2 linked regions of the Homo sapiens genome follow. The protein of the gene in region 2 interacts with the protein of the main gene of each other region in a biochemical or structural test. Each region holds a gene or a part of one and is shown on either strand. Other genes may lie near its edges. The genes, in order: FOXD3 and POU5F1.

Region 1 (7,913 bases), on a different chromosome or scaffold from region 2:
AAGAGGGATGTTTGGAATTTACTTACTTTTCAAAGGATAATTGAAATGACCAAGAACTCTCTCATTTGGGAAGTTTTCATTGTGGAAGATACAAGTCTAGTCATTTTTTAAAAAAATTTAAAGACTGCTGTTGTTTCGGTTTCTTTTTTTAAATGACAGCTTACTTTATCTACAGAAATGTCTGGTCATTTAGATTTAATGGGTTGATATGAATGATATCACTCACATCCTGATTTTATGTGAAAACTAAAAGAAAAATAGTAACACAATTTAAATTAGGCATACTATTTCCTTTCTCCAATTAAAATTTTCTTACACTCAAATTATGAATTTAAAAAGTTTGAAAAGGCCATTACTTGAAATTCCTTGATTTTCTGGGGAGGAGAAAAGGCAAATAAATACCATTTAAAAATCTTGCCATTTACTTCAGACAACTAAATAAAACACTAGGCTGGGCATTTTAAAAATTTATTTACAAAGTTGTGTACAACACGATGGAATAACATTTAGAATACCATATATATTCATTCATATATAAACAGACTTTTATAATAGAATGACACTTTTTGCCTTTTTGAAAATTTTTTATATTTAAAATCTCCCAACGTCTCTATACATTCTTTTCTCAGATAAAACTTCGGAGAGTGAACCTTCAAAAAAAATGAAAGTTCAGAGCTCTAAATCTACGGAATTTGTTTTTTCTTAAAAAAATAAAAACCCCAAAAGGAAAGTCAATAATTTTTTTACAAATATATACAAAGAATTTCCCTCCCATCCCCACGGTACTAAGAGCAGGCGCCGTCGGGGTGCATTTTTGGAAAATTCGGTTTTCGGTTTTACCTGTATGGAAAGCTATCCCCGGCGGGCGCGCGGTGAGTTTGCTCGACCAGCTTAGGTGTGCGCGAGGGGATGGAGGCCGCGGAAGGTAGGCGTTGGGGGCTCAGGGGAAAGGAAATTGGGGAGAGGCAGAGTCCAGGATTGGGCAGCGGGACCGGGACCGGGCTTGGGACAGGGCGCGCAGCCTGGAGGTGCATTTGTTGCTCGAGGCCGCCGCCGGACCCTGGGTCCCGGCCATTGGCGCGTCCCTATTGCGCCGGCCATTTGGCTTGAGCGGCGGCCGCAGCAGCGGCGGCGGCCGAGGCTGCGGGCTGCAGAAACTGTCCGGAGAGTGGCACGCTAAGAATGGGCGCGATGGTGGCAGTCGTCCGGCTCAGCGACAGCGGTTGGTGGGTGGCCATGAGCGCTGCCGACTGCACGGTCCCGGGTGGCCGCAGAAACGACTGCGCCGTGCTGCCGCCCCCTGAACCCCCAGTGCCGCCGGCGACCCCAGCGCCCACCGCCGAGCCCCCAGGAGCCGCGGGGCCCCCACCTATGATGTTCTCGATGCTGAACGACGGCCGCGCGCTTGGCTCGGACTTGATGAGCGACGCGGTGGTGCCCGCGGCGCCCGCTGTGCCCGCAGCGGCCGCGGCGGCGCCCAGGCTATTGAGCTGCAGCTGCAGGCCCGGGCCGAGCTGTGAGCCGAAGGCGGCCGCTTTGCGGCCCAGCTCGCCCGAGGGCAGCAGCGGCACAGCGGGAGGCAGCACCGGTGCCACCGGCGGCAGCGCGTACGGGTACTGGAGCGCCGCCGCAGCAGCCGCGGCCGCCGCCGCTGCCGGGTGCGAATAGGCACCGGCCGCCGCCGCAGGGTGCAGGCCGTAGGGGCGGCCGTAGGGTCCCGCGGCGCCGGCCGCCGCCGCCAGGCTGTAAGCGCCGAAGCTCTGCATCATGAGCGCCGTCTGCTCGCGCAGGTGCTCCTGCTGGTGGCGCTTGAAGCGTTTCCGGCGCCGCAGGAAGCTGCCGTTGTCGAACATGTCCTCGGACTGCGGGTCCAGGGTCCAGTAGTTGCCCTTGCCCGGGTTGCCCGGCTCGCGGGGGATCTTGACGAAGCAGTCGTTGAGTGAGAGGTTGTGGCGGATGCTGTTCTGCCAGGCGGGGAACTTCTCCCTGTAGTAGGGGAAGCGGTTGCTGATGAACTCGCAGATGCCGCTCAGGGTCAGCTTCTTCTGCGGGCTCTGCAGGATGGCCATGGTGATGAGCGCGATGTACGAGTAAGGCGGCTTCACTAGGCTGTTCTTGGGCTTGCTCGGGGCCAGGCCTCCCGCCGAACCGCTGCCCGCGCCAGGCCCGCCGCCGCTCGCGCCGCCCTCCTCGCCGCCAACACCGCCCTTGCAGCCGTCCGCCTCCGGCGCGCCCACGTCGCCCCCCGGTCCGGCCCCGGCTCCGGCCGCCTCCTTGGGCAATGTCAGGGGCTGCTGGTGGGGCGGCTGAGGCTGTCCGTGATGGGGTGCCGCCGGGGGCACCTCGTCCGCCTCGTCCAGGCGCAGCTCCGGCGGCCCCGCGGGGCTATCGCAACCTGCGTCGCTGTCCTTCTCTTCCAGCCCGTCGTCGCCCTCGCCCACCACATCGATGTCCACGTCCTCGGCCGTCAGCACCGTCTGGCCGGACATGTCGCTGGCGCTGCCGCCGCCGGAGAGGGTCATCCCTCCTCGGGGTTGGTAGCGGCGGCGGGGAGGGGGCAGCGGGCGATGAGGGTGTTCGGGGGCTGCCACGGAGCTCAGGGGAAGAGGGTTTGAGTGCCCCCGAAAGATGGGGGGCAGGGAGAGGGGAGGGGGCCGCAGGTGGCTTGGGGCCCGCTGGGCTCAGCTCACACTCGGCGGCCCCGCATCGCGTGGCGCGGGCTCTGCCGTCCGCCCCCAGCGGCCGCGCTCCGCGAACTCCTGCCGTCCCTGGCGCTCGGTACTAGGCGCTCGCTACCGCTCCCGGCCCCGGCGGTTCTCCACGCCGCGCCCCCTCACTTAGCCCGCCTTCCTCGGCCTCTGGCCCTGGCGTGGGGCGCAGGAGCGGTCCAGGCGGGCGCGGGACGCCGGGCGCCGAGCAGCTCGGGAGGGCGCGGGCAGGGACAGTAGCGGGGGGGCAGGGGGCTGGGTGTCAGGGACGCCGAAGCCCCGGTAGTCGAAAGTCCCGTTTTAAGGACTGGCCTGATAGATTACTTTCTACTTAAAGATCCAGCGGGAGGCGGGGCCACGTGACCGTGCGTGACGTCAGGGCCGCGGCCGAGCCGGCCAAACTCAAGTTGGTTCAGGGAATTGTCAACAAAGGGACGAGAGACGCGCAACTCCGCTCCGCACTGTGCGCCAGCATCCCCGGGGCACGGAGGGCGCTGCGGCCCGCCCGGAGACCCCCCCACCCAGGCTGGATCCGGGCCCTGGGGCCCAGGGAGCGGGTGGGTGTGAGTGTGGGTGGGTGTGAGCGAGTCAGGGCGTGGGCCTGGGAGCGTCCGCGGGACTGTGCGACTGTCGCTGCCCTGCCTTCCCCGCCCCCTCTCCCTTCCGCCCTTCTCCCCCCCACTTTGTCACACTCCTTAGACAGGGACTGGGCGACCTAGAACGAGGTTCCCATATCGTGTTTTAAAAAGCAAAACTTAGTCTCTGTTTTGCTTTTTGTTTCATTGTTTTTAGCTTTAAAGAGTAAGAGCAGCGCACCCGGCTCCCTCCTGCTAATTAGATTTCAGATTCCCCTCTGGCCTCAGTGCTCATTCCGGGGAAGACACCTGCTGAGATGTCTTTTTCCCCCTCCCCCAACCAAACCACTCAGGTCCTACCTGCTCTTTCCCGGCTTGATGCGGGCGTGTTTTCCTGTATGTATTTTTTCGTGCGGCCACAAAAAGCATCAGCTGGGGTTCCCGAAGGTCAGAAAATGGCTATTGATTAATCTACTAGAATAGTTGCCGAGAGAAATAAAAACGACGTAAAATAGCAGGGAACCTATAAATAAAGAAGCCATAACTGGCTACTTGGAGTTGTTAAACGACTTAGCATATGAAAAAATCGGAAATGAGGCGCTGGGGAAGGAGCTGGGATTGGCAGCGGCCTGGGTAAGTCGAGTGGATCCGGGAAGAGGCCTGGTGTCTTCAGGTTAGACGCAGCGCCCAGGGGCGGCTGAAGAAACGTGAGGGGTGCGGGCAGTGACTTCCCGGGCGGCGGGCATGGCCTTGGGGGAACCTGGGCAGACTTGGGCATGCCAGCATGCTGGGATCTCCGTTGCTGCCAGCTAACGTGGATTTTCTTCTCTTAAGGTGTGGACAAATCCTCCAAGATTTAACTTCCAAGAAAACCGGCGGCGGAGCGGGTGGAGGAGGCGAGGATGTGTGGCCAATGCACGCGGAGTGCAAGGCAAGTCAGTGATAGTAGGAAAAACTGTGGGGATTTCACTGGGACTGGAGGGGGAGGCACCGCAAACCGACCCCCAAGTGCGTGGCTGGGGTGCGTGGACCTCACACCTCCAAGGAAAGTCAGTGCTCTTGACGCGGTGAATCAGCGATGCGCCTCCTCTTTCCTCCCTCATTTAGGCCGCCTAGTTGGGAGCCGCAAGAGCCTGCCTGGTGTGGCAGGCACACGGAACCCAATCCCTGTCTGTCCGCTGCGGCCTGGGAGGGGAGCGCCGGCCTCACCAGAGGAAGGAGCACGAGGGGAGGAGTTCCGAGAGGAAATAATTAGTGAAATATTTGCAGAAGATGCTGGGATGTGGATTTAATTCCGGATGGACAGTGGTGCTTCTGATTCCCTCAGTCTGTTTCCCCACCCACGATCTCCTCTTTCCTTGGCCTAGACACACCAAAAATAATTCAATAAAATAAAAATAAAAATTTAAAAATCTGTAAACTTGCTTCATTACAGGCATTGAGACACACAGATTGACTTTCATCCCCATTAGACAGTTTCCCAGGATATAACACTACTCATCTGAGGCTGGGAGCAGGGTAGGGGGTGGTGACACTATCCTGAGACGCCCGCCAACCTCCACAGTTTTTCTTTATCTAAATGATCCCGAGGTTGCACACGGCCCTAAAACGCATCTCAGAGTTGATTTCCGTAGCTCCACAGCTTTGTGGCCCGCAGGCTCCGAACCGTTTACAATGCCGTCTAGACAGCTTTCCGCGAAACCGACCCGAGCTGAGCTGGCTGGCCATCGCCCAGGACTGCAGAGGTCGCGTCTGCAACTGCCTCAGCAACCGAAGTGTCGGAAGGTCCAAAAAAAAAAAAAAAAAAAGCTAAAAAGCGGAAATTTACACATTCAGGAACCTCCTTTGCTCTGCTTGGGTTGCCCAGCCCTAAAGGCAGGGGCCCGGGGCGCAGCGCTGGCCCTGCCGCGGCCTTGGTGGCTGGGCCCGCGTGGACTAGTATGTGTGGATGCGCGCCGGAGGATGGTGGCTACAGGGCTCCCCTCACCGGTCTCGAAGTAGTCTCCAAATGAGCCTAATTTCGATTCCGCCGTCCGCAGAGGCTAGCTCTCTGGACTCCCTCCACGCTGCTGGTCGCTGCCTCCTACCCTCCCTCTGCCACGGCCCAGCCTGATCCGTCCATTCCCCGGTGTCTCCTTGGAACCTCCCTGGGGAAGGGGGTGGAGGACGAACAACTCCCAGCTGCCGGTTCCATTTGTTGCGCTTTTTTCCTTCGACACAATAAAAGTCAAATTAATTGATTCATACCATTAATTACGGCGCGTAGCGTGAAAAGCAACGCTTCCCCTCGGTTAGAGATCTATTGTGCTAATCTCTTGTTCAATCAGTGTTACCATCTGATGCTGGGTCCGGCCCTTACAGAAACTTTTCGACTCGATTAGCTAAATGATGAGACGTGCACAACCTACTGGCTGCGGCCCCGACGTCCCGCGCCCGCGCCGGCCTAATATCGATTTCCAGCGGAGGCAGAGGATTTTTCCGCGGCCGCTCTCGGCTCAGGAACCGGCCGCCGGCTTTCTCCCTCCAGGCGGACCATAGCGCCTGCACAACCTCCGGGGGCGGGAAGGAGGCGAAGCGGCGGCCGGGGAGGGCGACAGGAAGGTTCCTGCTGGCCTTGACGCAGGAGGCCGCCCCAGCGGAAGGGTCCGATCCCGACGCGGTGCAGGGTCCTGCCGGAGACCGGCTAGATGTCGGGCTAAATAAATTGTTTGCCGCGTAGTTGCAGTTTGCAGCTAAAAGCTCACAGGTCGTCAGTTACCGCCAAGCTGTAGGACAGAGACGGAAGAAGCGAGACAGATACAGAGAGAAAGTGAGACACATGTAGTGGGGGGAAGAAAATGTGATAAAGGGTGTATGTGGATAAAAAGTTTCTGAGTCTCAAAGGGTTATTGGAGAGATAGAGGGAGAATGAGTAGACACACACACGCAATTATGAGTTTGAGTGACTCTTTGAGTCTCAACAAGCGAACTTCCCAGGAGAGATTTAAAAAGGAAGATGGCAGCCAGCTGCCTCACCTGCTCAAATGTTTGAAATGTTTCAACCAAAGGAGAATGGAATGAAACCCCTTCGGTTCCTCTGGAGCGGGCAGAGTACATGGTACCCCGCTGGGAAAGCCACCTGGACGCGGTGGGAATGAGGGGTGCGGGGAGTGGGGATCTAGGTTCTAGCAACAGGAGGCAAGAAGAATGGAGTCCGGATCGATAGGAAGGAAATTGAGACGTCTCCAGGGGAGGGGAGATTTAGTGTGTGCGTCCAGTGGGGGGATGGGGGGGAAGAAATGGATAGAAAAATTTATGATGGAGAAAGGGAAATTAATTACAGCTCATTTTGGGTTCTTAGGTGGTCAACACTGGAGGAGGGGCACGGTTAGAGTGCGGAAGGCGGGAATTGCCCACCTACCCCTCACCAGGCCCAAGTGAACCCATATGCCTCTTTTCTCCTCTTTTAAGTCAGAGACAGTGCCAGTGGCTTGAATAAGTCGTTGGCGCGATGTGAGATAGAATCATCATGCCCGCGCGCGGGTGCACTTTTCTTACAATACGGGGAGTTGGGACCAGGTTCCGCGGAGTGAAGGGCGCGTCCCCCACCAAGAGTAGTTACTCTTTGTCCAAGAGGGAGCAAAACGTGGGTGGGACTATTAGAAAAATTCCCCTCCTTTCTCCCCAACACCCCCGCGCCCGCAACAATCAAAGTCTGCTGCTTCTTGAAAATCTTCATAGATTTGTTAAACTATTACCGGCCTCTTTGTCTGGATGGCCGCCACCAAGGAAGGTGGGAAAGGGCAGAGGTGGTACCCAAGGCCCCAACCCACCCAGATTACTTCCATTTCCCAAAGCGGGGGATTTTCAACTCTCTTACCCACCACTACCCCCTTGTATACCTCTCCGGATCTTTTCGGGGTGGAAAAAAAGAGGCTATTTTAATGTTCTTGTTTGGATTTGCATCTCAAAACTTCATTTATTTTCAAGATGTCTGCCACTCAGGGTCCACGCCAAGGCGTGCCTGTAAATGGCGAGAGACCAAAAGGAAAGGAGGAGAGAAAGAGGAAGAGAGAGAGGATGGTTTCGAATTTATTTATATTGGAAATATATAAACATCCATTCTGTAAAAGGCAACACGTTTAATTAACGATGAGAGAGCAGTTAGGGGCAGAAAGCTAGTAAAATTGTGTGATAAATTTATGGCATTGTTAGCGTGCTTTTAATTATGGCTATTATGTTAATTATTTCACATTAGCATGGAGTTATCAGCAGCATGTCGGATTTAATAAAAACGAGCCTTTCTCTCGAAAATTGTTCTTTTCATCCACGAGGAGAAAGGTCCTGGACAGGATCGGGGCTTAAAAATGACTTGGCATTGAAAGCCGGAGTCTTTCTGACACCGTTTGGAGCGATGCGGCCAGGCCCGGCTGTCCGCTGGGTCCCTCCAGGCTACCGGCAGCTCGAGGAGGAGCCCAGGGCTGGGTTTTTAGGAATTCACCATTTTCACCCCCTTCGGAGCCGACACTTCATCATGCGAGATCATTCTGTCAAACAATATGATGCTGCTCATTTTTATCTGTCCCGCTTTACAAAATCCCCATTCAGCCGGCCGAGGAGCAACAAAAGCCTCTGAGCAGCTCCGCAGCCA
Region 2 (4,129 bases):
GCCCAAGTTTTTAAAATGGAAGAAATGACTCTGGGGCAAAGACCCCTAATGAACTAGTGGCAGAGCCAGGAATAAAACTTGAGTAACTAATGAGTCACTTATGGGCAGAGTATGCAAAAACCTTAAGTGGAAACCAAATAGACCCTGGTATCAAGAAAGCACAAAGTATTAATAGAAGTTTCTGGTTGGGGTGATCTAGGTTCAACAGAAATAAGATGATTTCTAAGTATAAAGCCATTTAAGAATTCCAGAGTAGGGTGGGAAAGCAAAAAGCCAGCTCTGAACAGGTAACAGCTACATGGTGACTGAGTCTATGGGCAAAAGTTCTTGCATCACAGGCTTTTGGGAACTAGCCTATCACAGGGCCCTGTACAAATAAACTTGGCTGCAATCCCAGCTCTCCCTCTGATGTTGTGTGACCTTAAGGAGTGTAAATGGCACCTTAGTTTCAGGGTCACTTGGGTATGAGCATTGGATATTCCCATCCCTACCTCAGTAACTGAAGGACAAACCAAGATAAGTGTGTCTATCTACTGTGTCCCAGGCTTCTTTATTTAAGAAAAAAGTGATACATGATGTGGGATTAAAATCAAGAGCATCATTGAACTTCACCTTCCCTCCAACCAGTTGCCCCAAACTCCCCTGCCCCCACCCTTTGTGTTCCCAATTCCTTCCTTAGTGAATGAAGAACTTAATCCCAAAAACCCTGGCACAAACTCCAGGTTTTCTTTCCCTAGCTCCTCCCCTCCCCCTGTCCCCCATTCCTAGAAGGGCAGGCACCTCAGTTTGAATGCATGGGAGAGCCCAGAGTGGTGACGGAGACAGGGGGAAAGGCTTCCCCCTCAGGGAAAGGGACCGAGGAGTACAGTGCAGTGAAGTGAGGGCTCCCATAGCCTGGGGTACCAAAATGGGGCCCTGGGGCCAGAGGAAAGGACACTGGTCCCCCTGAGAAAGGAGACCCAGCAGCCTCAAAATCCTCTCGTTGTGCATAGTCGCTGCTTGATCGCTTGCCCTTCTGGCGCCGGTTACAGAACCACACTCGGACCACCTGCAAGTGAATGACAGAAAGGAGAATGACATTAGACAATGAGCTGAGACGGGCCTGACTCTGCTTGGACATTCTATCCAAAGCCAACAGCCCTAGAGCAGTTAGAGGAGGACATTAGAGAATGAGCTGAGACAGGCCTGACTGCTTGGACATTCTGTCCAAAGCCAACAGCCCTAGAGCAGTTGGAGGAGCCAGAGCTAGGGAAAGCGAGGTGGTGACAGGGGAAAGAGATGGAGCCCGCAGAGAGACATGGCACTCACATCCTTCTCGAGCCCAAGCTGCTGGGCGATGTGGCTGATCTGCTGCAGTGTGGGTTTCGGGCACTGCAGGAACAAATTCTCCAGGTTGCCTCTCACTCGGTTCTCGATACTGGTTCGCTTTCTCTTTCGGGCCTGCACGAGGGTTTCTGCTTTGCATATCTGTGCAGGTGGGAAGGGGGTGACAAGGGCAAGCTTTGGACTTGCTGAGTAACAGCATCACAGGGGTCTGTGACTAGATGTGTCAGCAGAGCCAGGTGGTGGTGTGAAAAGGCAGGATCCTGGAAGGGTTGGCTCTGGACCTTATCCCAGCAGAACTGAGGAATTTCACTCCATCCCACTGAGAACCACTGCACCAAAGACGGAGAGCTACGAGCCAGTGATGGAAGCAATGGAAATTAGGCCAAGAAAGGGAAGGTCCCCGGGTATCCCCCTCCCACCCTTACCTCCTGAAGATTTTCATTGTTGTCAGCTTCCTCCACCCACTTCTGCAGCAAGGGCCGCAGCTTACACATGTTCTTGAAGCTAAGCTGCAGAGCCTCAAAGCGGCAGATGGTCGTTTGGCTGAATACCTTCCCTGGGGGAGGCCAGTCAAAAGAGAAGCAAAGTGAGGGAGCACGCAGGGCCCTTGTGACCCTGAGATCCAAGCTTACCACCTCTTCCCAGAGGGAGCTCAAAGCATCTTCTCCCTCTCCCTACTCCTCTTCATGGGTGAGGGTAGTCTGCCCCTGCCCCTCCCCACTAGGTTCAGGGATACTCCTTAGAGGGGAGATGCGGTCAGAATCTGCAGAGGGGAACCCACCAAATAGAACCCCCAGGGTGAGCCCCACATCGGCCTGTGTATATCCCAGGGTGATCCTCTTCTGCTTCAGGAGCTTGGCAAATTGCTCGAGTTCTTTCTGCAGAGCTTTGATGTCCTGGGACTGGATTTTAAAAGGCAGAAGACTTGTAAGAACATAAACACACCAGTTATCAATCTCCCCTTTCCATTCGGGATTCAAGAACCTACGTGTGGCCCCAAGGAATAGTCTGTAGAAGTGCCTCTGCCTTCCAAGCTGCCCACCTAACTTCTAGAAATAACCTACCCACAAATGTCATTCACCCATTCCCTGTTCACTGACTCATGCATGTAACAAAGGACTACTCTTCCCCCAGAAACTGGCACATCCAAGGGATGCAGAGCATCGTGAAAGGACAGAAAGAGAGACCCTGGCCTCGAGAACACCTGTCAGGTTATGAAGGTTAGAAGTTCTTTGCTGGGCGCGGTGGCTCACGCCTATAATTCCAGCACTTTGGGAGGCCGAGGTGGGCAGATCACGAGGTCAGGAGTTCAAGACCAGCATGGCCAACATGGTGAAACCCCGTCTCTACTAAAAACACAAAAATTAGCTGGGCACGGTGGCACGCACCTGTAATCCCAGCTACTCAGGAGGCTGAGGCAGGAGAATCACTTGAACCCGGGAGGCGGAGGTTGCAGTGAGCTGAGATCACGCCACTGCACTCCAGCCTGGGTGACAGAGCAAGACTCTGTCTCAAAGAAAAAAAAAAAAGAAGATAGTTCATTTAATACCTGCAAAATTCTCTCACTCAAGTATCACCCCCAGTTTAAGGATGTTTTGAGATTAGAGAAATAGATAAGCTGCTAAGTTCTGGGTTAATTAAAAAGGAAGAGCATCATGTCTCAGAAGCTAAATTCAGTATATACTCTCCCCAGCTTGCTTTGAGGGTCCCACAAACTATAACATGGCATGCATACACACAAACACAGCAAAAAAGTAACAGGTGTCATAAGAATGGATAAAGTGCTTTGTGTGTACTTACTCATTTTTTAAATTGATTATCCCTCATCTTTACTGTATCTTTTTCACTATAGAGGCATCCTAATTGATTTTTAAATTCAAGAGATTTATCGAGCACCTTCTATAAGCCAGCGGCTATACAAAGTGGACAAAGAGCCCTGACATCCAGCATGACAGAAGTGCTATTTGGCACTTGTTCTTCAAGTTGCCCACTTGGATCTCTTCCAAGTGCACTTTCCTTTTTTCCCTGCCCTATAACTTTTTAATAATAAACTTCCACTCCTGCTCTGAAAAATAAAAAAGTAAATAAAATAAAAAATGGCCAGGCACAGTGGCTCATGTCTGTAAATCCTAGCACTTTGGGAGGCCAAGGTGGGCAGACTGCTTGAGCCCAAGAGTTAGAAAGCAGCCTGGGTAACATAGTGAGACCCGTGCCGCCCCTTCTCCCACCCCTGCTGCCTCTATTTAAAATATATATATATATTATGGAAAAAAGTAAAGCAGTCTGGGCGCAGTGGTCATGCCTGTAATCCCTTCACTTTGGGAGGCCAAGGTGGGTAGATCACTTGAGGTCAGGAGTTCAAGACTAGCCTGGTCAACATAGTGAGACTCTGTCTCTACTAAAAATACAAAAATTAGCTGGGCATCATGGCGCTCCCCTATAATCCCAGCTACTCAGGAGGCTGAGGCAGGAGAATTGCTTGAACCTAGGAGGTGGAGTTTGCAGTGAGCCAAGATCGCACCACTGCACTCCAGCCTGAGGGACAGAGTGAGACTCCATCTCAAAAATTAAAAAAAAAATAAAGCAGTCTATAGGAGTAGGGTAAAGGAGGGAAGGAGATTATGGAGGAGGGTGACACTTTTAAAGACAGAGAAGGTGATTGTTTGAGCAAAGGACAAGAGTCTAATGTGGCAAGGCCCTGAAGTGGGCCTTCCAGAGCCCAAAGCTGGTCTGGTGGCTAGGTAGATCCTGTTGCAGACATAGTGACTTTGTTTTAGTCCAAGCGAAATGATCTCTCACCCTT

Evidence for each region.
Region 1: the proteins of POU5F1 (region 2) and FOXD3 form a complex in vitro, tested with the Homo sapiens proteins (one study listed by BioGRID).

The regions. Positions count from the first base shown.
Region 1 is NC_000001.11:63,317,668-63,325,580, reverse strand, and holds FOXD3 (forkhead box protein D3), read right to left. Parts: upstream 3,015-7,913; 5' UTR 2,523-3,014; coding exon 1,086-2,522; 3' UTR 453-1,085; downstream 1-452. UniProt on the Homo sapiens protein: Binds to the consensus sequence 5'-A[AT]T[AG]TTTGTTT-3' and acts as a transcriptional repressor. Also acts as a transcriptional activator. Negatively regulates transcription of transcriptional repressor RHIT/ZNF205.
Region 2 is NC_000006.12:31,163,820-31,167,948, forward strand, and holds the end of POU5F1 (POU domain, class 5, transcription factor 1), read right to left. Parts: intron 3,352-4,129; exon of another isoform or gene 2,229-3,351; coding exon 2,108-2,228; exon of another isoform or gene 1,883-2,107; coding exon 1,752-1,882; intron 1,468-1,751; coding exon 1,309-1,467; intron 1,049-1,308; coding exon 782-1,048; 3' UTR 518-781; downstream 1-517. UniProt on the Homo sapiens protein: Transcription factor that binds to the octamer motif (5'-ATTTGCAT-3'). Forms a trimeric complex with SOX2 or SOX15 on DNA and controls the expression of a number of genes involved in embryonic development such as YES1, FGF4, UTF1 and ZFP206.